Linked DNA regions of Homo sapiens. The protein of the gene in region 6 purifies or fractionates together with the protein of the main gene of each other region. This does not show direct contact. Each region holds a gene or a part of one and is shown on either strand. Other genes may lie near its edges. The genes, in order: NAAA, PLTP, TGFBR3, MYORG, COL18A1, SIAE and CEMIP2.

What was found.
Region 1: the proteins of SIAE (region 6) and NAAA purify together in Homo sapiens (affinity purification with mass spectrometry; 2 studies listed by BioGRID and IntAct, with this or other methods). This does not show direct contact.
Region 2: the proteins of SIAE (region 6) and PLTP purify together in Homo sapiens (affinity purification with mass spectrometry; 2 studies listed by BioGRID and IntAct, with this or other methods). This does not show direct contact.
Region 3: the proteins of SIAE (region 6) and TGFBR3 purify together in Homo sapiens (affinity purification with mass spectrometry; 2 studies listed by BioGRID and IntAct, with this or other methods). This does not show direct contact.
Region 4: the proteins of SIAE (region 6) and MYORG purify together in Homo sapiens (affinity purification with mass spectrometry; 2 studies listed by BioGRID and IntAct, with this or other methods). This does not show direct contact.
Region 5: the proteins of SIAE (region 6) and COL18A1 purify together in Homo sapiens (affinity purification with mass spectrometry; 2 studies listed by BioGRID and IntAct, with this or other methods). This does not show direct contact.
Region 7: the proteins of SIAE (region 6) and CEMIP2 purify together in Homo sapiens (affinity purification with mass spectrometry; 2 studies listed by BioGRID and IntAct, with this or other methods). This does not show direct contact.

Annotation. Positions count from the first base shown.
Region 1 is NC_000004.12:75,931,014-75,934,513, forward strand, and holds part of NAAA (N-acylethanolamine-hydrolyzing acid amidase isoform 1 precursor), read right to left. Parts: intron 292-3,500; coding exon 201-291; intron 1-200.
Region 2 is NC_000020.11:45,909,356-45,913,375, forward strand, and holds the start of PLTP (phospholipid transfer protein isoform a precursor), read right to left. Parts: upstream 2,801-4,020; 5' UTR 2,724-2,800; intron 2,109-2,723; 5' UTR 2,098-2,108; coding exon 1,998-2,097; intron 1,897-1,997; coding exon 1,797-1,896; intron 1,640-1,796; exon of another isoform or gene 1,516-1,639; intron 716-1,515; coding exon 587-715; intron 317-586; coding exon 161-316; intron 1-160. UniProt on the Homo sapiens protein: Mediates the transfer of phospholipids and free cholesterol from triglyceride-rich lipoproteins (low density lipoproteins or LDL and very low density lipoproteins or VLDL) into high-density lipoproteins (HDL) as well as the exchange of phospholipids between triglyceride-rich lipoproteins themselves.
Region 3 is NC_000001.11:91,718,652-91,722,151, forward strand, and holds part of TGFBR3 (transforming growth factor beta receptor type 3 isoform a precursor), read right to left. Parts: intron 3,494-3,500; coding exon 3,304-3,493; intron 1,580-3,303; coding exon 1,242-1,579; intron 814-1,241; coding exon 661-813; intron 1-660. UniProt on the Homo sapiens protein: Cell surface receptor that regulates diverse cellular processes including cell proliferation, differentiation, migration, and apoptosis.
Region 4 is NC_000009.12:34,370,399-34,373,898, forward strand, and holds part of MYORG (myogenesis-regulating glycosidase), read right to left. Parts: intron 2,609-3,500; 5' UTR 2,546-2,608; coding exon 401-2,545; 3' UTR 1-400.
Region 5 is NC_000021.9:45,464,165-45,467,664, reverse strand, and holds part of COL18A1 (collagen alpha-1(XVIII) chain isoform 4 preproprotein), read right to left. Parts: intron 1-3,500. UniProt on the Homo sapiens protein: Probably plays a major role in determining the retinal structure as well as in the closure of the neural tube.
Region 6 is NC_000011.10:124,632,613-124,635,739, forward strand, and holds the end of SIAE (sialate O-acetylesterase isoform 1 precursor), read right to left. Parts: 3' UTR 501-3,127; downstream 1-500. UniProt on the Homo sapiens protein: Catalyzes the removal of O-acetyl ester groups from position 9 of the free diacetylated sialate N-acetyl-9-O-acetylneuraminate (Neu5,9Ac2) in the cytosol and of the diacetylated sialate residues of sialylglycoconjugates in the lysosomes.
Region 7 is NC_000009.12:71,685,690-71,688,513, forward strand, and holds part of CEMIP2 (cell surface hyaluronidase CEMIP2), read right to left. Parts: intron 158-2,824; coding exon 54-157; intron 1-53. UniProt on the Homo sapiens protein: Cell surface hyaluronidase that mediates the initial cleavage of extracellular high-molecular-weight hyaluronan into intermediate-size hyaluronan of approximately 10-5 kDa fragments.

The DNA.
Region 1 (3,500 bases), on a different chromosome or scaffold from region 6:
TATTTTGCTTTCTTTGCAGCACTTATTGCTACCTGAAATCTTCATTGCTTCCATGCATACTGTCCACTTTCTCCCCCTAGGATGGAAGTCCCTGCCACATAGTGGGTGTTCTGTATATTCTGTTGGGTGAGTGAAGGAAGTGCTTGGATAGAACTGAACAATAATGTAGCTAAAATTACACAGGGGTTTGTTTTGATTACCTCGTTCATCACCAGAAACTGTAAACTTGTGTGGGCTCTGGCCAGTCCATAATCCTACATAGCCAATAAAAGTAGTTCCTGTGAATGCAATCTGAAATCAAGAGATAACATGGATCATTTCACCATTCCAATCAAATACACTGAAATCACCTGTTCTGCCCCACAATTTTCTGGATTTTTTTTCTTATAAATTCCAACACAATAGAATAAAACTCTGAAATAGTCTTCTAAGACAGAGGTTCTTAACCTTAAGCTGGGGTGGGTGGGGGTGTGGTCCATAGATAGATTTTAGTAGATTTGTGACCTTGGATGGGAAAAAAAAAGATGCATCTTTATTTTCACTAACCTCTAACTGAAATTTAACTCCTTCTATAATGAATGCATGCAACAAATCACACAATCATAGTGGTGCCTATAATTTTGCCACTAGTAGAAATCACAGATATTTTCACATACACAATGTTGGCTGCAGTTATTTTGAAACACTATCCATAATTTACTACTTTGAAATCATGGTAGTTATTAGACCCCCTGCTAAACCTTACTATTTAATGTGTTAAGAAAAAGTATAACATTGAAATGGCTGTTTTCAACACAACTGATTTTTTTTGTAATCCTACGTATTTTATTTTATGTATTTATAAAACAGTATTCACCAAAGGGGTGCACAAAGCAGGTTAAGAAGCCCCATCCTAGAAGTAGCAAGTGGAGTCTTACTTTAAAACTTGTTTTGAAGCCAGGAGCAGTGGCTCACGCCTGTAATCCTAGCACTTTGGGAGGCCAAGGTGGGCAGAACACCTGAGGTCGGGAGTTCAAGACCAGCCTGACCAACGTGGAGAAACCTGGATTCTACTAAAAATACAAAATTAGCCGGGCGTGGTGGCACATGCCTGTAATCCCAGCTACTAGGGAGGCTGAGGCAGGAGAATCACTTGAACCCGGGAGGCGGAGGTTGCGGTGAACCGAGATAGCGCCATCACACTCCAGCCTGGGCAACAAGAGTGAAACTCTGTCTCAAAAATAAAATAAAATAAAATAAAACTTGTTTTGATTTGATTATAAGAGATGAATATCACATATTTTATAAGCTCTGTGAAGTTAGAATATCAAAGTGGGACTGTTCACCAATAATAATCACATTTAAATTTTAAATATTTAAAAATCCTTTAACAAAGCTCTTTCATTTAATCCTCACAACTATCCCATGAATTATAGGCATCACTCCTACTTTAAATTAAGGTCACAAGCTCCAGTGATTGCAAGATACCACTATGTAACCTGCAGGAGAAAAATCAAACTCTGTATGTCACCGAGGCTGGAGTGCAATGGTGCAATCACGACTCACTGCAGCCTCGACCTCCTGGGCTCAAGCAATCCTCCCACCTCAGTTTTCCAAGTAGCTGGGACCACAGGTGCATGCCACCAAACCTGACTGATATATAAATATATACAAAATTTTTTTTTGCTTTTCCTAAAGACAGGGTCTCCCTATGTGGCCCAGGCTCGTCTCAAACTCCTGGGCTCAAGCAATCCTTCTGTCTTGGCTTCTCAAAGTGCTGGGATTACAGGTGTGAGCCACCACAGCTAGCCTTTATCAGTTATTTCTGATACCAAATTTTATTTTTCAAAGAAGTACTTTGGCAAGGCATGGTGGCTCACACCTGTAATCCCAGCACTTTGGGAGGCCAAGGTAGGCGGATCACTTGAGGCCAGGAATTTAAGACCAGCCTGGCCAACACGGTGAAACTCCAACTCTACCAAAAATACAAAAATTAGCTGGGTGTGGTGGCACGCACCTGTGGTCCCAGCTACTCGGGAGGCTAAGGCAGGAGAATCGCTTGAACCCAGGAGGTAGAGGTTGCCGTGAGCCAAGATTGCACCATTGCACTCCAGCCTGTGACAGAACAAGACTCTGTCTCAAAAAAAAAAAAAAAAAGTACTTAAAACAGTATCTGACTCATACTGTTCAATAAAAGTTAACTAATACCATTATGTTTTAAGAAATAGATAGTCCTAGATTGATATTTTCCTTAGAAAAATTAGGTCAGTAATGTTTTTCATTTAATTATTTATTTTTACCTTATCTGCTTGTAAAAATAATTTAAGGTGGCTGAATTACAAGGGAGAATGCAGTGTCCTTAGCTTTATAAATGACCTCAGCCCTCAGACTTACTGAGGACCTCCATGAATGTCTCATCTCCACGCATGGTGGTAAAGCAGAAATAAGTCTTCCTTACTACTCAAATGTAATTATATGGAAAATAAAAAGTAATTATATGGCCACCTCATTTGCGTGACACCGTGATCGTCAGGGTCACTCTTGGAGGGCTGAGAAAATTGAAGTTATGAGATCAAAAGTCACATCGTAGTTTTCAATTACGATACATAATTATAAATAATTTTGAGATATAATTTGTAAGATATTTTATCTTGCAGCTCTGAAAATCTGTCTTTACTTCTGTTTGTACTTCCCAGTTGTTTCTGCCTAGTCAGTTAACATAAACAAACCCTTAGCAGGGAATTTTAAGTTACAGCCTGGTGCCTGGTGCGGTGGCTCAAACCTGTAATCCCAGCACTTTGGGAGGCCGAGGCGGGTGGATTATCTGAGCTCAGGAGTTCAAGACCAGCCAACATAGTGAAACCCCATCTCTGCTAAAAATACAAAAATTAGCCGGGTGTGGTGGCACCCTCCTATAGTCCCAGCTACTTGGGAGGCTGAGGCAGGAGAATTGCTTGAACATGGGAGGCAGAGGTTGCAGTGAGCCGAGATCGCGCCACTGCACTCCAGCCTGGGTGATAGAGCGAGACTCTGTCTCAAAAATAAAAACAATAGTAGTAGTAATAATAATAATAATAATAATAATAATAATAATAATAATAATAATTTACAGCCTAATTAAGGCTGTAAACAAAAACTATCAGTAGGCCTAACGCCTGGGTTCTGGCCCTACCTCTGCCATGTCTCTAGAGGCCTTGTGATTCGGGGCAAGTCAGTCTCTGTGAAGCTGGGCCCCCTCATCTAGAAAGTAAAGATTAAAATGTTGACTTATGCCTGCTTCACAGGGCTGCTGGGGGGATCGAATGAGGTCCTGTGTATGATAATACTTTTGTTGTTGTTGTTGAGATGGAGTCTCACTCTGTCACTGGGCTAGAGTGCAGTGGTGCGATCTCAGCTCACTGCAACCTCCGCCTCCCAGGTTCAAGCGATTCCCCTGCCTCAGCCTCCCAAGTAGCTGGGATTACAGACACCCACCCACACGCCCAGCTAATTTTTTTTTTTTTTTTTTGTAGTTTTAGTAG
Region 2 (4,020 bases), on a different chromosome or scaffold from region 6:
AAGCTTCAGTGACTTGGCCACGTTCACACAGCCAGGAAGTGACAGAGCTGAGCTTTGGACCCAGTTGGTCTGATTCCCAGGCCTATGCACTTTGCATTGCGCTAGGCAGATGAGCTGTGGGGCTCGAAAAGGGTGAGCTGGGGTTGGGGCTGGGGCTTACTTGAAGGTTCCCCCGAAGGCCGCGTGCATTCTGGAGACAGAGGCCTGGCAGGAGACATTGGACACTTTCATCCGTCCAGCGGGATCCCGGGAGAGCTCCAGACCAGTGCGGATGGACACACCCTCAGCTGAGGCGTTGATGTAGCCCCCATCATAGCTGCCAGGGGGGTTAATATTCACTCCAGGTAGGAGCTCAATTGAGTCTTCAGTGCCCCCATGCATCACCATACCTCTTAATAAGGTTTCACCTCTTTCCACACATCCTACCAAACCTTCCTATCAACTCGTATGAAATGCATATGCCTGTTTCTGTTACACAGATGAAGAAACGGAAACTCAGGAAGGCTAAGGGGGCTGCCCACAGCCCCACAGCACCTCCAGCCCTCCTGACCCACTCTCCACTCCCCTGAGGGTGCTGGGTCCTTACAAGAACCAGTAGAGCAGCTGTCTCCGGAAGCGCAGCCCCAAGGAGGCATTGGTGATTTGAAGCATCAGCTCCTGCTGTGGCTGGAAATCGAGCTCGGAAGATGTCAGTTGCAGCTCTGTGACCTTCACCCTACAGGAGGCCTCAGGGTCAGATCCAGGGCCAAGAAGAGGGAACTTCCCCCAACGACAGGAAATTTGTCTGCTCCCCTTTCAAGTCCAGGCCTGGGGAAGCGGGAGTGGGTGGAATGAATTCTTCCATTGTCCCTCAAGTGCCCAACTTAGACTTGGGTGGCTCAAAGTTGAACTTGGGTGGCTGAGAGAGGAGGTCTTCCTGATCCAGGTGTTAAAAATGAGCTTCACCCCATCGCTTAAAAGTCTTGTTTGTTTGTTTGCCAGGTGCGGTGGTGGCTCATGCCTGTAATCCCAGCACTTTAGGAGGCCGAGGAGGGCGGATCACTTGAGGTCAGGAGTTCGAGACCAGTCTGGCCAACATAGTGAAACCCGTCTCTACCAAAAATACAAAACTTAGCAGACCGTGGTGGCACGCGCCTGTAGTCCTAGCTACTCGGGAGGCTGAGGCAGGAAAATCGCTTGAACTCGGGATGCGGAGGTTGCAGTGAGCCAAGATCGCGCCACTGCACTCTAGCCTGGGCAACAGAACAAGACTCCCTCTCAGAAAAAAAAAAAAAAAAAGTCTTGTTTGCTTGCACCCCCTCCCCTCCCACACCCTGGGGTTGCTACACCCGGTCTTTTAATAGAGTCCGTTCACTTTGCCTCCATCACCTAAGCTCCGTCTCACATCTCAATTCCTTATTCCCCCTCCCTCATCCTAAACCATACTTAGAGCCTTCAGTTTCTCCACCCCTCCGATTAACTCCACCCCGTGCCCGAGACTCCACTCTCATCTATTGGGAAGTTCCTTGACTCCACCTTTCTGTTGTTCTTCGACCACGCCTCACATCCACTGGTCCTGCTTCCTTCTTGGCCCCCTCTACATTTTCAAGGCCACGCCCATCTGCCTGGTCCCGCCTATGATGACTGGCTTGGCCTTTATCTTTTCGGCCCCATCCGGTTTCTTAAGTCTTGCCTCATCGATTTGGCCACGCCCCATCCCACTCAGCCTCCAGTCTCCCGAGACCCTGAGATTTCTCGGGCCCCGCCTCCACCGCCGAGGCCCCGCCCCGGATCGCGAGGCCCCGCCCCCCACTTACTCAGAGATGTTGTAGTAGAAGTGGCCTTCTTTGCCCCGCAGGTCCGGAATGGTGATAGTCTCCAGCTCTTGCTCCAGAAAGCGCAGCCCCTCCTGCTTCACTGAAGCAGCAGAGAAACCCTTACTTAGCTCCCGTGCCCACTGTTGGGGCGACCCCAACCCCGTCCGCTCCCGTCCGTCCCTGTCTGCCCCTGCGCCTTACCCAGCTCCAGCGCCTTGGAGGTGACGCGGATCTTGCAGCCTGGGAACTCTGCATGTGCGCCTGCCAGCAGCGCTAGGAAGAGGGCCCCGAAGAGGGCCATGGCGAGCGGGCCTGGGGGTGGGGTGGGGTCGCAGGAGTTATCTGAGCCGCTTAAACCCATTCCTTGGACGTCCAACCATAAGTGGGAACTAGCCTGGATCGTTACCCTCCAGATAACTCTTCGGGGAACTTGGAACCAATAATCTTGCCTCCATATGGCAGATGTGGAAACTGAGGCTCAGAGAGGCGATGCGACTTGCGTTCTGGCTCCCAGAGGATTTGGGACACGGGGGAGGGGACGTTCCCAGTTCCCTCGTGCTACCGCCGCGTGATGAGTTTGGACCTCCAGGGGACCAGCCCCCACACCCCCAACAACCTCCCCTTTCCTTTAGCGGTGGGCCCATGCAGGCTTGCACGTTGCCACGGCAACGACTGCACGCGCATTCTTGGAGGGTGGCTTGCGGTCTCCTAGGCCTCGCGCCCGGGGAGGAGAGGAGGTGGCCGACCAGACCGTGGGCTCCCGGGTCTCCCGGCTCCCTCAGGTCCTAAATCTCTCCCATTAGAGATTCTGCCTGGAGCCCCCATGTTAGCGTTCTCCTTCATCGGCTCTCCTCCCCACGCCGGCTTCAGTGCACCACGCGGCTCGGCGAGGGACTGGGAACGGGATAGGGACGCGCCCCAACTCACTCAGCGGTGGAGCTGGGGGGCGGCGCGGTCACGTGGGATGGCGGGCAGCTCAGGGGATCCGGGCGACGGGGTCTGGCGGGCAGGGTTGTTCCAGCCGCCTTTATAAAGCCGGCCTCCCCGACCCCTCCTCCTCTCTGCAGCTCTCCCCTCCTCCCTTGGGGGCTGGGAGGGGACGGGGCGGGACGCTGGCAGCCGGGAGAGTGGAAAAGGCTGCACAGAGCCCCGTGACAAGCCCGGCCGCTGTCTGGACAAGTGGGAGACCCAAGCCCAGGGAGAGGGAAGGAAATGCAGGAGCCGGCCCACTCAGCCCCAACAATCCCACTTTGCTGGGACCTTGGTTCAAATTACAATTATCCATGTCTTCCTGCATGATCTTGGGCAAGTCACTTCACTTGGGTCACTGACCCTCAGTTTCTTCCTTCAGCGAAATGTGCACGATGATAGGAACTACCTCTTGGGCCTTTATTACAACCAGGTCCAGGCACAAAGTCAAGGAATATTTTTTCTTTCCCTGCCACCCACAATCATCTCGGGACCTCCTTGCCTGGCTTTGCTATGGGCCCCCCTACCTGTCTCTGTGTCACCACCTGGGGACCTTAAGGTCCCAGAGACCTTTCCCACTTGGGAAAGCAAGACTAGACAAGTGCTGTCAGCCCAGGAACATACCACACCGGCTGAAATCAGAAGGAGGTCTGCCATTTATCGTGGCTGGTGGATTGTTTTTTCTATTTTTTTTATTTTTATTTTTTGAGACGGAGTCTCGCTCTGTCCCCCAGGCTGGAGTGCAGTGGCGCGATCTCGGCTCCCTGCAAGCCCCGCCTCCCGGGTTCACGCCATTCTCCTGCCTCAGCCTCCCCAGCAGCTGGGGCTACAGGCGCACGCTGCCACGCCCGGCTAATTTTTTTTGTATTTTTAGTAGAGACGGGGTTTCACCGTGTTAGCCAGGATGGTCTCGATCTCCTGACCTTGTGATCCGCCCGCCTCGGCCTCCCAAAGTGCTGGGATTAAAGGCATGAGCCACCGCGCCCGGTCCACTGGTGGATTTTTTAATGAACCCTTGGAGCAAGGTGCTCTGAACAGCATCCCCGCCCCCACCCCCACCCCCACCTCCATCTACTGCTTACAGGGTTCCCGGACCCTAGGACAGGGCACAGAGTGGGTGCTTGCCACCTTTTTGTTGCCAAATGGACGAAAGAAAGGGGAAGCAATAATCATGTCTGCTGAGCATGTATTTAGCACCAAACACTCATCTAGGAAGGATGACTAACTCATCCTGATTTGCCTAGGACTTTCCCCA
Region 3 (3,500 bases), on a different chromosome or scaffold from region 6:
AAAGATTTTGACCAACTGAGAAGAAAGATTTCTGGAAAATGCAGCTTAGCTATTGCAACGGTTTATCATTGGGGGAAATCTGTGGAATCTTTCTCCAAGTAACTTCAAAAGTAGGAGAGTTTCTTCAATGTATGGTCTTTCTTAGAGGTGGAGAGAGACTTAATAATTCCTTAAAGGTCCTTTTTGAGTTTTAAATTCTCTTTTTGGATTTTTATTCATGAAGGAGGGAGAAGTTCTCCTACTTCTGGACGAGACTCAAATGAGGCCAGAGAGACCACACATCTGGTTAACCCGGCTGTGCAGAGGTGCTGCTCGTTCATATAGCCCAGGGCCTTAAAATTTTATCCTTATAAGGGCCAGTTGAGCTTGGGCACTGAGAGAAGTCATAATCACCTTGACAGTGCAGCCTTTGTCATCAGGAGACGGAAACGGGGGGTGAGAAAACAGGCCTTCCAATTCCCAAAGACTCACCAATAAAACAAATAAAACCAAAGAGCTCAGGGTCAAAGTACATCCATTTTGTTGAGAACTGACACTTGGCTTTCTTCAGGCCTGGGGTGAAAACCCTCTTCATCTTCAAAGAAATGTTAAGACTAACTTTAAGGGAGCACACAGCCAGGCTCTGGCAAAGGGCAAAGCTTTGTTCTGGAAAACACTCACGGAGTTATAGTAGACCACACCATCAAGGGCTGACCACCGGGGCCGAGTACCGCAGCCATTCAGAGGAGACTCCAAAACAAAGTGTGTGCCATTCATCTTGGCCTTGCAGGTAGGATCCAACAGGGTGACGTCCATCCCCGAGTAGCCACTGGCCTAAAACAACAACCACCAAAGACATGGTTGGAGGCCCACAGGCAGTTCTGTTGTATAATTGACACAATTGACAATTGCCTGGTCTTCCAAGGACAGGCGATGAGAGGCCTGCATCGTGCCCCTTCCCCAAGTATCTCTTCCCAGCTGCCCACCTCTCAACAGCTCAAGGGTAGTATCTGTTGGCCTTGGAAATTCAATAGCAAAATATTGACACACAAGGATCTGGAACCCCCACCCCCTGTCACTGAGAACAACAGGAACCAGGTGAGAATCACAGCCAAGGGGAAGTAGGCCCATCCAACTGAGAAAACAGTATCAAGCCTCCGGAGTTCAAAAATGAAAGAGATAGGGAGAAATTACAGATGCAGACTAGGGCCAGATGGGAAAGGAGGTAGCCTCTCTTCCCTCCTGTAATCAGCTGCACCGACCTGAAAAGAATCTTTTTCTACAGCCACGATCATCTTCTCATTGTCACATTTGACAGACAGGGCAATATCCACGCTCCCTTGCACCTCTTCTGGCTCTCTGAGACCAGGAAACAGTTGTATGCTGGGAATGACAGGGTCCTTTGGCCGAGGGAGCCCATCTTCTCCCTCTTCATTCCAGACTCTCCTGGAAATATCTGGGAAAGGAAACGGAAGGCCTCCATTTTGGCCTTCCCCTCCCCGGATGGGCGGGTTCTGCAGGGCAGGCAGGGCACCAGGGTCCAGCAGGATCCGTAGCTCAGGAGGAATAGTGTGGACTTCCTCATCTCCCATCTCCTCTGCTGGTGAAAGAAGAAGGCAAAACATCAGCAGTGTTTGATGCCAGGCCACAACCAACATCATTACAGGCAGAACAGGAGGAATTAGCATAGAATGGGCAGGTGTAAAATGACTTTTAATAAGCAGTGCATAAAGGTCATTAGAAGTCTAGAAGCCTGAATTCTAGTCCTGGTGTTCTCTCTAACTAGCTCAGTGGCTTTAGGCAAGCGGCTTGCTTCTCTGTGCCTCAAATTTGCTTTTCCAATTTTTTAAATTAAGTGGTTGGAAATGATCAGTGGTTCTTAACTTTGGCTACACATGAAAATCACTTGGGAGCTTTAAAAAATATTCCTACGCCCAGGTTGTACCCCAAACAATTTAAACTCAGACTCTCTGGGGTGGTACCCAATCATTAATATGTTTTAGTCTCTCCATGTGTAACTGCAATGTGCACCTAAGACTGAGAACCAATGGAACAGACAGTTTCTAAGGCTGTCCAAGCTAGAAAAATCTGTGATTTAAGTTACATGATGCAATATTATTCCATTGAAATGCCACTAAAATACTTTCCTTGAATCAAGAGAGTCTTTTGAATAATTTCTCTAATGATGTCTTGAAACAATATTGGTATGTTAAAATTACTTCACCACCTTCTTTTTGACAGCTAAATTTTAACAGGTATCTGGGCACCTTGGCCTTTTGGAACATATTCCCTTGAAAGATAAGAAATAGCTGCATAGATACATTTATTCCTTCAAAGGGAGAGACGTATTTCCATACAATCAATACTCAATATTTTGTCGTATTTCTAACAACTAAAAAAATAATAATTTCCCCAGTATTCTTTATATCTACTATCTAAGGCCAACTGATGTACACTTGAGGTCAAATCCATCTCAGTGGAAGCTGGAAGTGAAGATGATAGTTGGACATTATCTCTCCTTTAATAATATTCTTTGGAAAGGACGCTAGAGCTGTAAGGGTCCAAAATAAGTCATAGCTTTGTAGGGTTTTTAATTTGTACTTTCACGAAAACCTTCACAACAACCCTGTAAGGTCTGTCCTATTATTTTCCCCTTATTACTGAAGAAAAATCTGTGGCTCAGAGGTGAAGCAACTTCTCCCCAAACAGTGACTAAATGGTAGAGCTGGGGCTTGAACCTGTACTCCTAATCCTTATTCTATTGGCATTTCACTCAGTGGTGGTACCATGAGCTGAGGAACAGGTCTAGGGATCACAAAACTAGGGTTTCAAGTCATGCTAGCTAGAAGACTCCAGAAAACCTCAAGAATTTGTTGACCCTCTGCTTTCCACCCCATTCAGCTGGGGTAGTAACTCCTGCCATCCTCTGGGTATGAACACTCAAGTATGAGTCCTCGTGACTATTTTCCTAAAAGATACAGCCTTTTACCATGAACTTCTTTCCTGCAGTCTTAACTCTTCTGTATTCTCAGCCATAAGTGGTCATTAGGTGTCTCGGAGAGAAGAACCTAATGTAATCACACTAAAGATAACCTATAACAAAGTTCTCTGAATATGCATTCAACTCTATGTCACTGAAAATCTGTATTACAGTTTCCTCAAAATCTCTGTCTAGGTAATTTTAAGCCTTCTGATAAAAAGTAGTCAAATTATTAAAATGTACAAGAGAAAAACAGCAACATATAAGCTGAAATGACAGTTCCTCACTGGAAAAGCTTCATTTGGGGGGTATTTTTTACATAACTTAAAAAACTTCTAACTTACCATTATTTTCAAGCCGAAGATGAAATCTATTAGCCACAGGAGCCATTGTGTATGAAGTTATTGGACTATAGCCATTGTCCAAAGCCCACTTCACCAGATTCCCTTGGGTTGAAGGAATGTCATCTCTTATTGATTTGGTCATTGTCATAGATCTTTCACTCTCTTTTCCAAAGCCAATACTGTTAGGAGCCTGAAGA
Region 4 (3,500 bases), on a different chromosome or scaffold from region 6:
CCTAAGATGGACAAAGATGGCCACGAAAGCCAGGAGGGGGAGGTTTCTCTTTGTGCTTTTAAACCCCAACCATGTATAACCATGTATAACAGGAAGAGAGCTGACCTTTTTCCTCTAAGCTCTCTGGCTTCCACCCCAGGGAAGAGGTTTCTGCAGATTGGTGTGAGTGTGGGGGTGGAAAGGGCACAGTAAGGATTGTGCGTTGGAGCAGGAGATTGCTTCAGTGCCCCCTCCCTAGGCCCCACCTTCAGCAGCTGGTTCCAGCACATTTAAGTCAGCAGCCACTTAATGGGTGGTATAGAGGTGGGAGGTTCCTGGGAGTACATGGTGCGGGTGTGACGGAGGGTTCAAGGTCTGCATGAAGACTGGGGGCTTTGCGGTTACCGGGCCCTGGGCTGGGTCAGGACGCCCAGGTAAAGTAGGCGATCTCATCCAGGTCGACCGGGTAATCGGTGAGCAGCACCGGCGTCTTGTCGAAAAGCTCACCCTTGTAGCTGCGCCACTTGCCGGCGGGCAAATAGACGTCGCGCTCCTGCTTGCCTGGCTCCAGCACCGGGGCCACAAGCAGCGTGTCCCCAATAAGGAACTGCGAGTCGATACGGTGAGCTGTCTCGTCGCCGGGCGCAATCCACCAAAGGGGGCGCACGATAGGGTCACCCGTGTCGGTGACCTCGCCCGCCAGCTCAAGCAACAGCGGTGCCACAAGCGAGGCCCGCAGGGCGGCGAACTTCTGCGCGATGGCCACCACTTCCGCGTCGTAGCGCCAGGGCGGGATAGAGAACTGCATGGCCGGCATAAAGGCGGCCACTTCCAGCCAGCGAATGTAGAGCTCGCGCTCGGGCACATCGCCGCCGGCTGTCCGCTGGGGCACGGCGTTGCCGCCCACCATATCGGGTAGGATGAATGGGTAGCCCAGCATGCTGACGGTGAGCACCGCGGGGATGAGTGAGCGCAACCCCAGGTCGTAGCCCCACACAGAGTCGCGATCCACCAGGCGGAAGAAGCAGGAGATGTTCTGTGACTGGTAGCCTACGCGCACCTCCGCCAGCGAGAAGAAGGGCAGCGCCATCTCAGTGTAGCGCCGGCTCCAGACGCTGGGGTCCGGCAGCGGCCGGTAGGTGCTGAAGTCCCGCGGCAGGTAGCTGACCTCGCCCGCGTCGAACTTGAAGGAAGCCACGGAGTAGCGAGAGCGCAGCCGCCGCAGGTGTCCCTGGAACCAGTCGCGGGCCTTTGGGTGCGTGAAGTCTAGCACCGCGCCGATGCCGTTCCACCAGCGCACCAGCGCAGGTAACCGGCCCGTGGGTTCGCGCACGAACAGCTCGCGCTCCACGCCCTCGCCGAAGCGCGACGAGTTGTAGTTGACAAAAGGGTGCACCCAGAGCGTGACGCGGAAGCCGGCGTCGCGCAGGCGGCGGAACATGTCGCTGGCGTTGGGGAATTTGACCTCATCGAAGTCGAAGTCGCCATAAGCAGGTGTGTACATGTCGTCGATTTCCAGGTGGCTGCTGTTGAAGTGGTGCAGGCGGATCTGTTGGGCAAAACGCAGCACCTTGTCCTGGTCCACGGCGCGCCCGTACAGCGCCCATGTGGACCAAATGGGGTCTCGGAAGGCCTCGGGTGCTGGCACCCTTGACGGCTTGTTGAAGTAGCGACGCACCATGTACTTGTGGATGGAGGTGACGTCTGAGCCCACGCACACTCGGTAGCTCAGCTCTGGCGCTGCGGCGCGGCCGGCGGGTGGCTTGTAGGGCGTGTCGTGGTAGCGCGCCTGAAGCCGCAGCGAGCGCTCCGTGCTGTTCCAGCCCAGGTGGAAGGGCACTGAGTCATTGACTTTGATGGCGGCCGCGCGCGAAGATAGCCAGTAGCGCTCGAGGATGCCCCCAAACGCGGCGTCGGAGGAGTAGACATCGCTGGTGACGAACGGCTGGGGCTCCTGCTGGCCATCCAGGCGGATGGGCCAGTGTTGCGTCCTCATCTCGGCGCCACCATACCAGTGGGCCGCCGCGTCGCCCAAGAACATGGCGTGCTCCACGGCCCGGCCCGGCGCTGCCTCCTCCCAGCGCACGCGGTAGCACATGACCGTGTCCTTGGGCCGCACAGTCTGGATGAAGAAGTGCAGCGGCAGCCCGTCGGCCGTGAGCGAGCAGCCCAGCAGGGCGCCATCGCGGCTGCAGGAGTCAAGGTCCAGCGCGCCGGAGCGGAAGGCCAGGCGGAAGACCTGCTCTCCCTTCTGATTGCGGATGGAGAAGCCGCCAGCTTTCAGGTCCAGCAGCTCCGCGCGAAGTCGCTCCGCCTTGCGTAGGGAGACGCTGTAGTAGCACCAGGCCACCACCGCGGCCAGCACAAGCAGCAGCCCCAGAACCGCGGAGCCCAGCAGCGGCTTCAGGTCTTTGGAAGGCTTGGGCTTGGCAGGTGAGAAGTTGTCGGGCAGGAAGGTGTACATAGCTGCGGCTGCGATGGCCTCGGGGTTCTGACGGTATGCGTAGCAGCCAGGCCGGCGGCGGCGGGGGTAGGCCTGGCTCTTCTCCTGAGGGTTCTGGAGCATTAGTGGGCTGCTAAGAAAGGAGCGGGCCGTGGGGCCATCTGACTGAGTTCATCTCAACCTGCTCTGAAAGGAGGAGACAGAGATGGAACTGAGCTATCTCATCCCATGATATTTCCATTTGCTGCCGCAAGCTAAGAGGAGGTGTATACTTTGGGAAGATGAATACTGGAACCTGAGGGCTTGAAGAGTGGCAAAGGTGAGACCCTTACCAGGACAATCTGTGCCTAACCCACCCTTTCTCATGGGACCTAATGCTTGCCCAAATTAGGACTCTGTGACTGGGGAGCGGCCCATGTGACTGGGAGATGGCACCCATCCTCATTTTCCTAGTGGAGAAACAAACCCTGAGAGGGTCAGGAAGCTTTCCAGGATCACAGGATAAGCCAGGCCTCCCCAGATCACACATGGGGCCGTTCGGGCTGAAGAGACGGGAAAGGAACTAGAAAAGTCCTGCTCTCCTAGAGGTGTGGATGGTCAGGGTGGGAGAGGGGGTATTGTCCAGCCAGCTCCTTGAGACTTTTTTTTTTGAAATGGAGTCTCTCTCTGTCACCCAGACTGGAGTGCAGTGGCATGATCTCAGCTCACTGCAATCTCTGCCTCTTGGGTTCAAGCGGGTCTCCTGCCTCAACCTCCCGAGTAGCTGGGATTAAAGGCGCACACCACCACACCTAGCTAATTTTTGTATTTTTGGTAGAGACAGGGTTTCACCATGTTGGTCAGGCTGGCTTCGAACTCATGACCTCAAGTGATCCACCTGCCTCAGCCTCCAGAAGTGCTGGCATTACAGGCGTGAGCCACCTCGCCCAGTCCCCCTTGAGACTTTTAACAGGGCGGTAGGCTAGCTTCCCTGTCCCCAGAGGGGGAGAGGAGGGAGGAAGGGAGAACAGCTCAGGGATGTGTTTTTATCCTGAGTCAAAAGCCTGATGAAGTCTGGAGATTGAAGAAGACACCCAAA
Region 5 (3,500 bases), on a different chromosome or scaffold from region 6:
CACACCCCAGTGTTCTTCGAAGCCTCGGCTACGGGGCGTCGCCCAGAGTGGCTGCCTCAGCTGGGGTTCCACGTGGCATCTGAGGACACGGTGCGGGATTTCACCCAGCGCTGTCGGTCACCGGCTCACCTGCTGGGCCAGGTGCTTCATGTGGCAAGGACAAGCTGTATCTCCCCATCCCCCCCATGCTGATTCCCCTCGGGGCCACAATCACCCCTTGGAGGGGCTGCATGCCTGACGTACCTGCCAACGTGCCACAGTCTCCCCACCAGCCCCGCTGCTCCGTGCAAATGCCCCACAGCGCCGGGTGACTCACTCCACTCATTCCTGCCCAGGCGGAGCTTGACTTCACTTCGACTCAGTAGCCCAGGGTCAGAAGGAGCCCTGTCCATCCCTCGCCCAGGGAGCCCAAGCCAGGACGCAGCCCCGGTGCCCAGAGTTCTCACACCTCGTTTCCTGCCCACGGGAGGGGGGCAGCACCCACTCAAGGGCAGACCCTGCTCAGAGTGACTTCCCAGCACACCTGCCGTGCCAGGCAGAGCCCGGGCTTTGCAGCCACAGTCTGGGCCAGGGGCAGAGGGGTCCCAACGGGCTGAGCCTGGGCTCTGGGGGCCAGCGGTCACATCCCCCTCAGACAGAGGCCGCCGTCCACCCAGATGGCAGCTGTTACAATGATCGTCCATCCAGATGGCAGCTGTTACAATGATCCTTTTTCTCATAAGAAGTGCCTGGTCCCACATGTCCAAGCTGGGGCTGTGATAAGATCAGGAAACAGGACTCGGCCTGGGGGCCAGAGGCCGTGCCAGCCACCCAGCTGCCCCCGCGTTCACCTTGGAGAAACCTCCCACCACCCTTCCTAGAACATTCCGTCATTGGGAAAGCAAGATGCGGCAGCTGCCACCTTCCTGGGCTGGAGGGTACCAGCACGCTACACCGGCGGCCCCAGGGACCCCAGTGACAGCAACGCCCTTTCCAAAGCTGTCCCGTCTCCTCTCCACGAAGCTCCTGGGGGCTCCCTTCAGAAGCCAGCTTCCAAATGCCCGGCCCTAAGATGCTGGATGGGCAGAGAATGGCGCAGCCTCCACTCCCCGAGGTACAGGCCCAGCTGTCTCAGATGTCCTGGAATCAAACAGCAAATGCCTGAACCCCATTTCGAGAGCTCAGCCTTCCCGGGTGCGAGAGCTCAGCCTTCCCGGGTGCGAGAGCTCAACCTTCCTGGGTATGGTGGGGCGGCCCCTCCTGCTGGACCACCTCCCTTTGGATCAAGGTGCTTGCTTCTTTAAAGACCATTTCCCCCTCAGGAATCAGGCCAGCCAGAAGTGTGGATGGTTCTGGAGGCCTGTGTGTGTTAACAGAGGCCCCTTTAAATATGCCCAGGACAGACAGTGCAGCCAGCATCCTCCCCGCAGGAGAGCAGCGGGTACCTCTGGCTGGGACTCTCCGCTGTTCTCACACCAGTGTGGAACGTCCCCGCCCCTCCCCTTGGGTCCCTTATCTTAGGGGACCGGGGACGTCCATCCCTTCTGCAGTGGCAGCCTCTGAGCCAAAGCGCCCTCTCCCAGAAGCCGGACTTTCCAGGACCCTCACTCCCAGCCTCACCCTGACACGGCCTGACTGGGGGTCTCCTGTGAGTCCCATGCTCGGCTTTGTCTGACACCTCCCAGGACAAGACCGTCCCTTCTCCCCAAACTGGGCTCTCCACCAAGAGCCGCGTTCACCCACGGGGGAGTGGGCTCCAGACAGGCCAGTCCTCGAGGGCCACACCCAATGTCCTGCATCCCTCACGGCCACCGTGGCTCCGAAGAAAAGGGCAAACCCCTCAGAGACCCTCAGACACGTGCACTCCACGGACGCCCGCCTGTGCTCAGCATCAGGTGCTCCAGACACTCCCCAGAACCAGCCCAGCCTGACTCCTCGGGGCACAGGGCCTGGAGTCTCTGCTGCCCCTTTGAAGGGCTCCTGAGGACAAGATCCAAGGCTGCCTGGCCAGCCCCCCGCCCTCCAGCACAGCCCCCTCCAGTCCTGCAGAGCCAGGGCCGCTCGTGCCCACATGGAGTGCTCTCAGCCCACTTTCCAGGGAAAAGAGAAAATAACCACCTCAGTAAGACTCACACAGAGCTTCCGGAACCTGATCCAGAGCTTGAAGAGTGCGCCACCATCATCACTCCATCACACCATAGCACTTACGCAGTGAAGTGCCCGGGGGGACATCTTGGCATCAAAGAAAAACGGCCTCAGAACAAACACCTCCACCAAATCCCAAGGCTGCAGAGCCCCCACGGAAGGCTAAAAACAACCTAAGAAACGGGCCCCTGTCCCCGGGTGGAGACTTCCTGTTGACACTCGGACACGTTTACAACATTCAATCTCTCCACCGTCAGCGCTGACCCAAAACCCACGCCAGGCACAGGTGGGGTGGCTCAGCTGGTGTCTGATAAACAAAGGCGAGGCTGTGCGATGAACCCGCCAGTCGGGGCTGAGCAGGTGTCTGCAGGGTCATCTGTTATACAGAGAAGCAGAAATACCTGCGAGTGCTTCAGTCAGGAAGGGCTGAGGAAAAGACCAGAACAACACGAAGAGCAGAGCATCTCCCTGGAGTTATGGAGACTCCTGAGATGCAGGATAAAGGAAAGAGGAACTTTCAGACACAGGGCAATCCCATTAATGCAAAGTAAGACTCCCATGCATATGTACACATGTGCAGCCGTGCACATGGACAAACTGTGGTGGGCAGAGCCATGGCCCCAAGGATGTCCACGGCACAACAGCTGGAACCCACAAGCGTAATTTTACGTGGCAAGGGGATGCTGCAGCTGGGACTCAGGCTGTGGACCTGGAGATGGGAGATGATCCACTTCTAACCACACAAAGCCTTAAAATCGAAGGACAAAAGATGGCACCATGAGGACTTGTCCAACACCGTTGGCTTTGAAGGGGGAAGAAGGGGCTTTGAGCGAAGGGAAGCGGCAGCCTCTAGAGGCTGGAAAAGTCAAGAAAACAGATTCTCCTCCAGAGTCCCAGAGGGACCCAGCCCTGACAACACCTTGGTTTCAGCCCAGTGAACTGGTTTCAGACTCTGACCTCCAAAACTGAAAGGTAAGACAGCTGTGTTGGTTTAAGCCACTGAATTTGTGGCAATTTCTTACAGTCGCCAATAGGAAGCTACATACCTATATGCAAATTGGCACAAACCCATGGGGGGATGGACACGGTGCCCCCACCTGACCACTGCAGGTGGCCGTGGTTAGTGGGACTCAGGAGCTCTGTTCCACCCTCTCATGTGTGGCTGGAGTCTTGCCGAGGGCCTGCCTTATCTAAGAGGGTCTTTTTTGGCCCCAGGTTGGGCTGTTGACTTCTGGGACAGACTCCAGCCCACCAGGAAGATCTCATCCCCAAAATCCCATCCTGGGAAGAGGAAGAGATGAAAACGGGAGGCTTTGGAGCTCCCACCGAGGGACTACGGGATCCACCTCTGCCCCAGTGCCTGGGCACTGTGCTAC
Region 6 (3,127 bases):
GATGCTGGGAAGTCCAAGTTCAAGGAGCGCAGATTCAATGTCTGGTGAGGGCCCACTTCCTAGTTCTTAGACAGCTGTCTTCCTGCAGTGTCCTCACGTGGTAGAAGAGGAAGGCAGCTCTCCGGGGTCCCTTTTATAAGATCACTAAGCCGGTTCATGAGAGGTCTGCTCTCATGACCTAATCACCTCCCAAAGGCCCCACCTCCCAATACCATCACATTAGGGGTTAGGATTTAACATGAATTTTGGGGACATATAAACATTAAGTCTGTAGTAGCAGCAGCTGACTAACGAGGGAGATAGGGAGATTCTGACAAACTTCTACTCTTGATTGTGATCCTAATTCAAGGAATATCAAGTCCCAGCCCCTGCAACCCAGGCTGCTGCTTAATTTTCATGTCAGTATCATCAAAATCCAATGTTCTGCTTAAACTCAAGATGGAAAGTCCAGTCCAAGGTACACTGTTCATCTTTTTCTTCACATTTTGCACATCCTTCAAGGGGATCTTTAACCTCTTTAACCTTTGTATTGCACCTCAGATAATGTGCTTTTTAGCTCAGTACACTGAAACCATATGATAACACAAATTCACATATAATTGGGGGTTAGTCCCATACTCTATAACAGACTTAGTCCTGTCTTTTCATTAGCCATGTAATAATATAACTCCATGTTCCATGCAACTGGATTTTTGGACCCTGTTAATAGCATTAAGGTAGAGGTTTACTCTATCACCTAACACCTCAACACTACCTGTGGGATGCCTTAGTTACCCAGCAGCAGGTTACCAAGGGCTGTCTGGAAAGGGAGGGACAAAAGGACCCAGAAGTAGAAGAATGGGGATGGAGTGGTGAGAATTGAATGGTTAATGCACTGCCATTCATAATTGCCAATTGAGGACAACACAAATGGGATTGGTACTTTATAGTAATAAATCTGACCAGCAGAGGGAGGGATCAGGCAGCAGTGTTTAGAGCACACCACACTGGCCACTGTAAACTGAGAAGCTAAGTTAACTGGTATTTTATGATTTTGAGTATAGTCTTTTTATAAGTTGTATACACTTTACAATGTAAAAGAAACAAACTTTGTATAATAGCAAATCGGGAAGGGGACTGCTTAAAATGTTAATGCAGTGTTTTTCTTTTTTTCTCTGCATAAATGGCTTGAGCATACTGGCATTTACACAGAAATGATATATGCTGCTTTTATCATATAACAAATATTTTCCCACTATTACAGCCTGAGTAATACCCGTATTAAAAGAGCCTCATTTTAGAAAGACATTTAAAATTTTTGGAACATACCACATGTAGAAAGGTTGAACTGGTTTTTCAGCTATAATGCATATACAACTATAGTGTGTACGTATACCACATATACATATACTTGTATGAAGATATGTGTAAAATGTTTTTACTATGGATCATGGATTTAAGAAACTTGAAAAGCTGGGCACGGTGGCTCACGCCTGTAATCCCAGCACTTTGGGAGGCTGAGGCGGGTGGATCAAGAGGTCAGGAGATCGAGACCATCCTGGCTAAGTCGGTCTCTAATAAAAATACAAAAAATTAGCCAGGCGTGGTGGCACGCGCCTGTAGTCCCAGCTACTCGGGAGGCTGAGGCAGGAAGAATCGCTTGAACCCGGGAGGCAGAGGTTGCAGTGAGCCGAGACCGCGCCACTGCACTCCAGCCTGGGCAACAGAGCAAAACTCCAACTCAAAAACAAAAACAAAAACACCTTGAAAAACACTGCCTTAGTATACTTAAACTATCTTTTCATCTATCAGATTGTTAAGGATTTTTTTTAAATTTGACAACATCCAGTGTCAATGAGGGTGAGGGCAAAAAAAGGACTACCTTGGTGAGAATGTAAGTTGTTTAATCCTTTGGGAGGGTTAAGCTGTAGATATCTAAATTTTAAATATATATTTATCCTCTTCCATGTTAAGAACCCTAAGAAATAACTGGACGAGTGTGGTATGATGTTTGCATGTGATATTCATTACAGTATTATTTTAATAGTAGAAAATTGTTAAAAATCTATATGTCCATTAATAGGAAATTGGTTAAATAAAATGAGGCTTCCACAAACTGAAACACTCTAAATCTATATTCTATTATTTACATAAGAAAATTATTTTGGTAAAGTAAGTAAGTCAAAAACACAGATTACAAAATAATATGTACTGTATAAAATTATATAACTCAAGTCAAGTGAATGGTTCAGCAAAATAGTGTTTCTCTGAATGATGAATTTGGGGGTGATTTTTACTTGCTTATACTTTAGTGTCCAAATTTTCTACAGTGACTATAAATTTCATTTTAAAACTAAAAAGTTCTTACATTTGGGGAAATGCAGTGAATTCCCACATCATGTTTTAAATTACTCAGCCACTAAAAATGAATGTGCATGGCGTCATTAACATAATCATTGCCTGAACCGTATTTTTCACACTATGTACTCTAGGTTCCTGGAGGTGAAAGGAATCTGGACTTAGAGTTCTTGGCTACCTCTGGCTGCCCCCGAATTAGAACAGCCCATGGGGGTATGTGTATTGGGAGTGGAGGAGTGGACGGGTAGATTGACTTTTTCTCAGGCATCAATCTGTTACAAGGTTCATGGTTTCTATGGGGCCAGATGCATGAGAGGTCAAAGCATGGGCAATAGGGGTTAACTGAACGAGTTGAATGCTAGGAAGTCCTCAGGGGAGCCAACGTTCCTTGTAAAGTGTGTAGATTTTTTGTTTTTTAACTAAATAAAATCTTGGCACTGACAAAGTTATTCCTGCTGTTTGGAGCTACACCAGAACCCCTTGGAACTCTACAGAGGGGTAGAACTAAAGCAAAAACCATCATTCACCCTACAGAGTATTATAAATTTCATTTTCACACAGTAAAAAGTTCCTAAATTGGGGGAAACATAGTGAATTCCACATAATGTTTTAAATTATTCAGCCACTAAAAATAAATTTACATATGATTTCATTAATATATTCACTATCTAAACCATATTTTTTACACTACGTAAAATACATTGTATATGTACAGTGAGTGATGCTTTTTGCTTTAGTTCTCATTTTTCACATTAAGGGGAGGAAAGCTACCCATAGATAGTATTCTTAC
Region 7 (2,824 bases), on a different chromosome or scaffold from region 6:
TTACCTATGTTGCTGGCCCTGTAAGAACTTCATGAAATAATACAAATACAAACCTTTGTCATAAAGATGAGCTGGTTTGGCTAATCCCAGAGGTACTAGTAAGTGTGAAATGTTTAACTGCTTTATTTCTCCTCTTGTGCTCAACAGAACAATGGACCTGTATGTGAAATTTAGAAAGTCAGAGCCAATTTCAATCCTTCAGCATGAGTATCTTTCTACTGAGTATCTTTCTGAACTGACTGCTGAATAGAAATATTAGATAAAAGCAGAACTCCAAAAAGAAAAAAGTCTAGATGATTTTCCATCCAATTCCCACTCTTCCACCCCACCACCATGGGCTTCACACGTTGCTCTTACAAGGGGTAACGCATACATAAACCAAATCATTTACGTACGTTCACCTAGTGCAGGGCTTCCCAACCCCTGGGCCATGGATGGGTACCAGTAGATTAGGAACCAAGTTGCACAGCAGGAGGTGAGCAGGCGAGCGAAGCTTCATCTGTATTTACAGCCACCCCACAACACTTGCATTACAGCCTGAGCTCCGCCTCCTGTCAGGTCAGCTGTGGCATTCAACTCTCATAGGAGCAGAACCCTATTGGGAACTGCACATGTGAGGGATCTAGGTTGTGTGCTCCTGAGAATCTAATGCCCAATGATCTGTTGATCATCACCCCCAGATGGGACCATCTAGTTGCAGGAAAACAAGCTCAGGGCTCCCACTGACTTTACATTATGGTGAGCTGTGTAATTATTTCATTATATATTGCAATGTAATAATAATAGAAAAAAAGTGCACAGTAAATGTAATGTGCTTCAATCATCCTGAAACCATCCCCCTTCACCTCCAGTCCATGGAAAAATTATCTTCCATGAAACCAGTCCCTGATGTCAAAAAGGCTGGGGACTGCTGACCTAGTGGATGGTCTGGGGCACAGCTCTTTTAGGGAATAGTCTATTGTTGTTGTTGTTGTTTATAATTTGTATAAATTTGTGAGGCACAAGTGCAATTTCATTACATACATAGGATTGCATAGTGGTGAAGTCAGGGCACTTAGGGTATCCATCACCCAAATAATGTACACTGTGCCTATTCAGTAATTTCCTGTCATCCACCCCTCACCCTTCCTTCTCCATTGTCTATCAGGGAGTAAGTCTACTGTAACATGGGAGAATGGTTTTGTTTTGTTTCAAATACTCTATTTATTTAAGTTCTATTATCTATTTATTAAATAAATGGATAAACACAATTCTAAAAATAAATAAACGACTAAATGTGTTTTCCATGGTTTGAATTACCATTTTTGTCACATAGTAAGCCAACATACATACTTGGACCTATCTGTGGATTCTCCGTTCTTCTCTGATCTTGCTCTTCTCTGCCAAAACTATGCTGGCCTATGGCTTCACGGTCCATTTTAATATTTGATAAAAACAAGCCCTTGTATTACTGTAATTTGTTTATATTTTACTACTTTCTCATTTATTCTTCCAGATGAACTACAGTATCAACTGTCAAGTACAGTAGAAAAGTACCTTTTGGGACACTAATGGAAATGTGTCAAATTTATATTTTAACTAAGTAAATGTAATGCACTTGAATCATCCTGAAACCATCCCCCTCCACCTCCAGTCCATGGAAAAATTATCTTCCATGAAACTGGTCCATGAAATTAACATTTATTAATTTTCCATTCAGAAACAGAGTCTCTCCTTTTATTCAACTTCTGTTGCATATCCTTTAGCAATATATTTAATAATGTATTTATTTTCTGTGTGTGTGTGTGTGTGTGTGTGTGTGTGTGTACACATACAAACTCACTCTTTCAAAAACTTTAATCAGAAATGTTCTTGGCCAGCCGGGTGCAGTGGCTCATGCCTTTAATTTCAGCACTTTGGAAGGCTGAGATGAGAGGATCATTTGAGCCCAGGAGTTCAAGACCAGCCTGGGAAACACAGCAAAACTCCATCTCCACAAAAAATTAGAAAAATAATAAAATTAAAAACAAAAACAAAAACAAAAAATAACCAGCCAGGCTGGTGGTGTGCACGTGTAGTCCCAGCTACTTGGAAGGCTGAAGTAGGAGGGTCACTTGAGCCTGAGAGGTCAAGACTACATTGAGCTGTGGACACATCACTGCACTCCAGCCTGGGCAACTATTTTTGTTTTCTTTTGTTTTTTTAGAGATAGGGTCCTTGCTCTGTCACCCCAGCTGGAATGCAGTGATGCAAGTATAGTTTACTGCAGCCTCAAACTCTTGGGCTCAAGGGATCTTCCTGTCCTAGCCTCCTCAGTAGGTGAGACTACAGGTATGTGCCCACATACCCAGATAATTTTTAAATTTTTCATAGAGACAGGGTCTCATTACATTGCCCAGGCTAGTCTTGAACTCCCGGCCTCAAGCAATCGTCCCGCCATGGCCTCCCAAAGTGCTGGGATTATAGGCATGAGCCACTGTGCCTGAACTCTTGGCCGGTATTACTGAAACAAAAATTTTCAAGAACAAATCAGTGTTTAGGGGGCTCTGAGTAGCTCTTATTAATTAAAAGGTAACATTAGATTGATTTATTTTCAGAGTCATCAAGGATACCTACAGGAAGTTGAAATTTGTGTGGTATGTCTTAATGTGGGTCTCGATGGTTCTTAAGATTAAGTACCTTAAGTTTCATGCTGGTATGGGTTCTTTATGGTAGTCTTTCTTTCTTTCTTTTTTTTTTAGAGACAGAGTCGCGCTCTGTTGCTCAGGCTGGAGTTCAGTGGTACAATCTTGGCTCACTGCAAACTGCCTCCTAGGTTCAAGCAGTTCTCCTGCCTCAGCCTCCC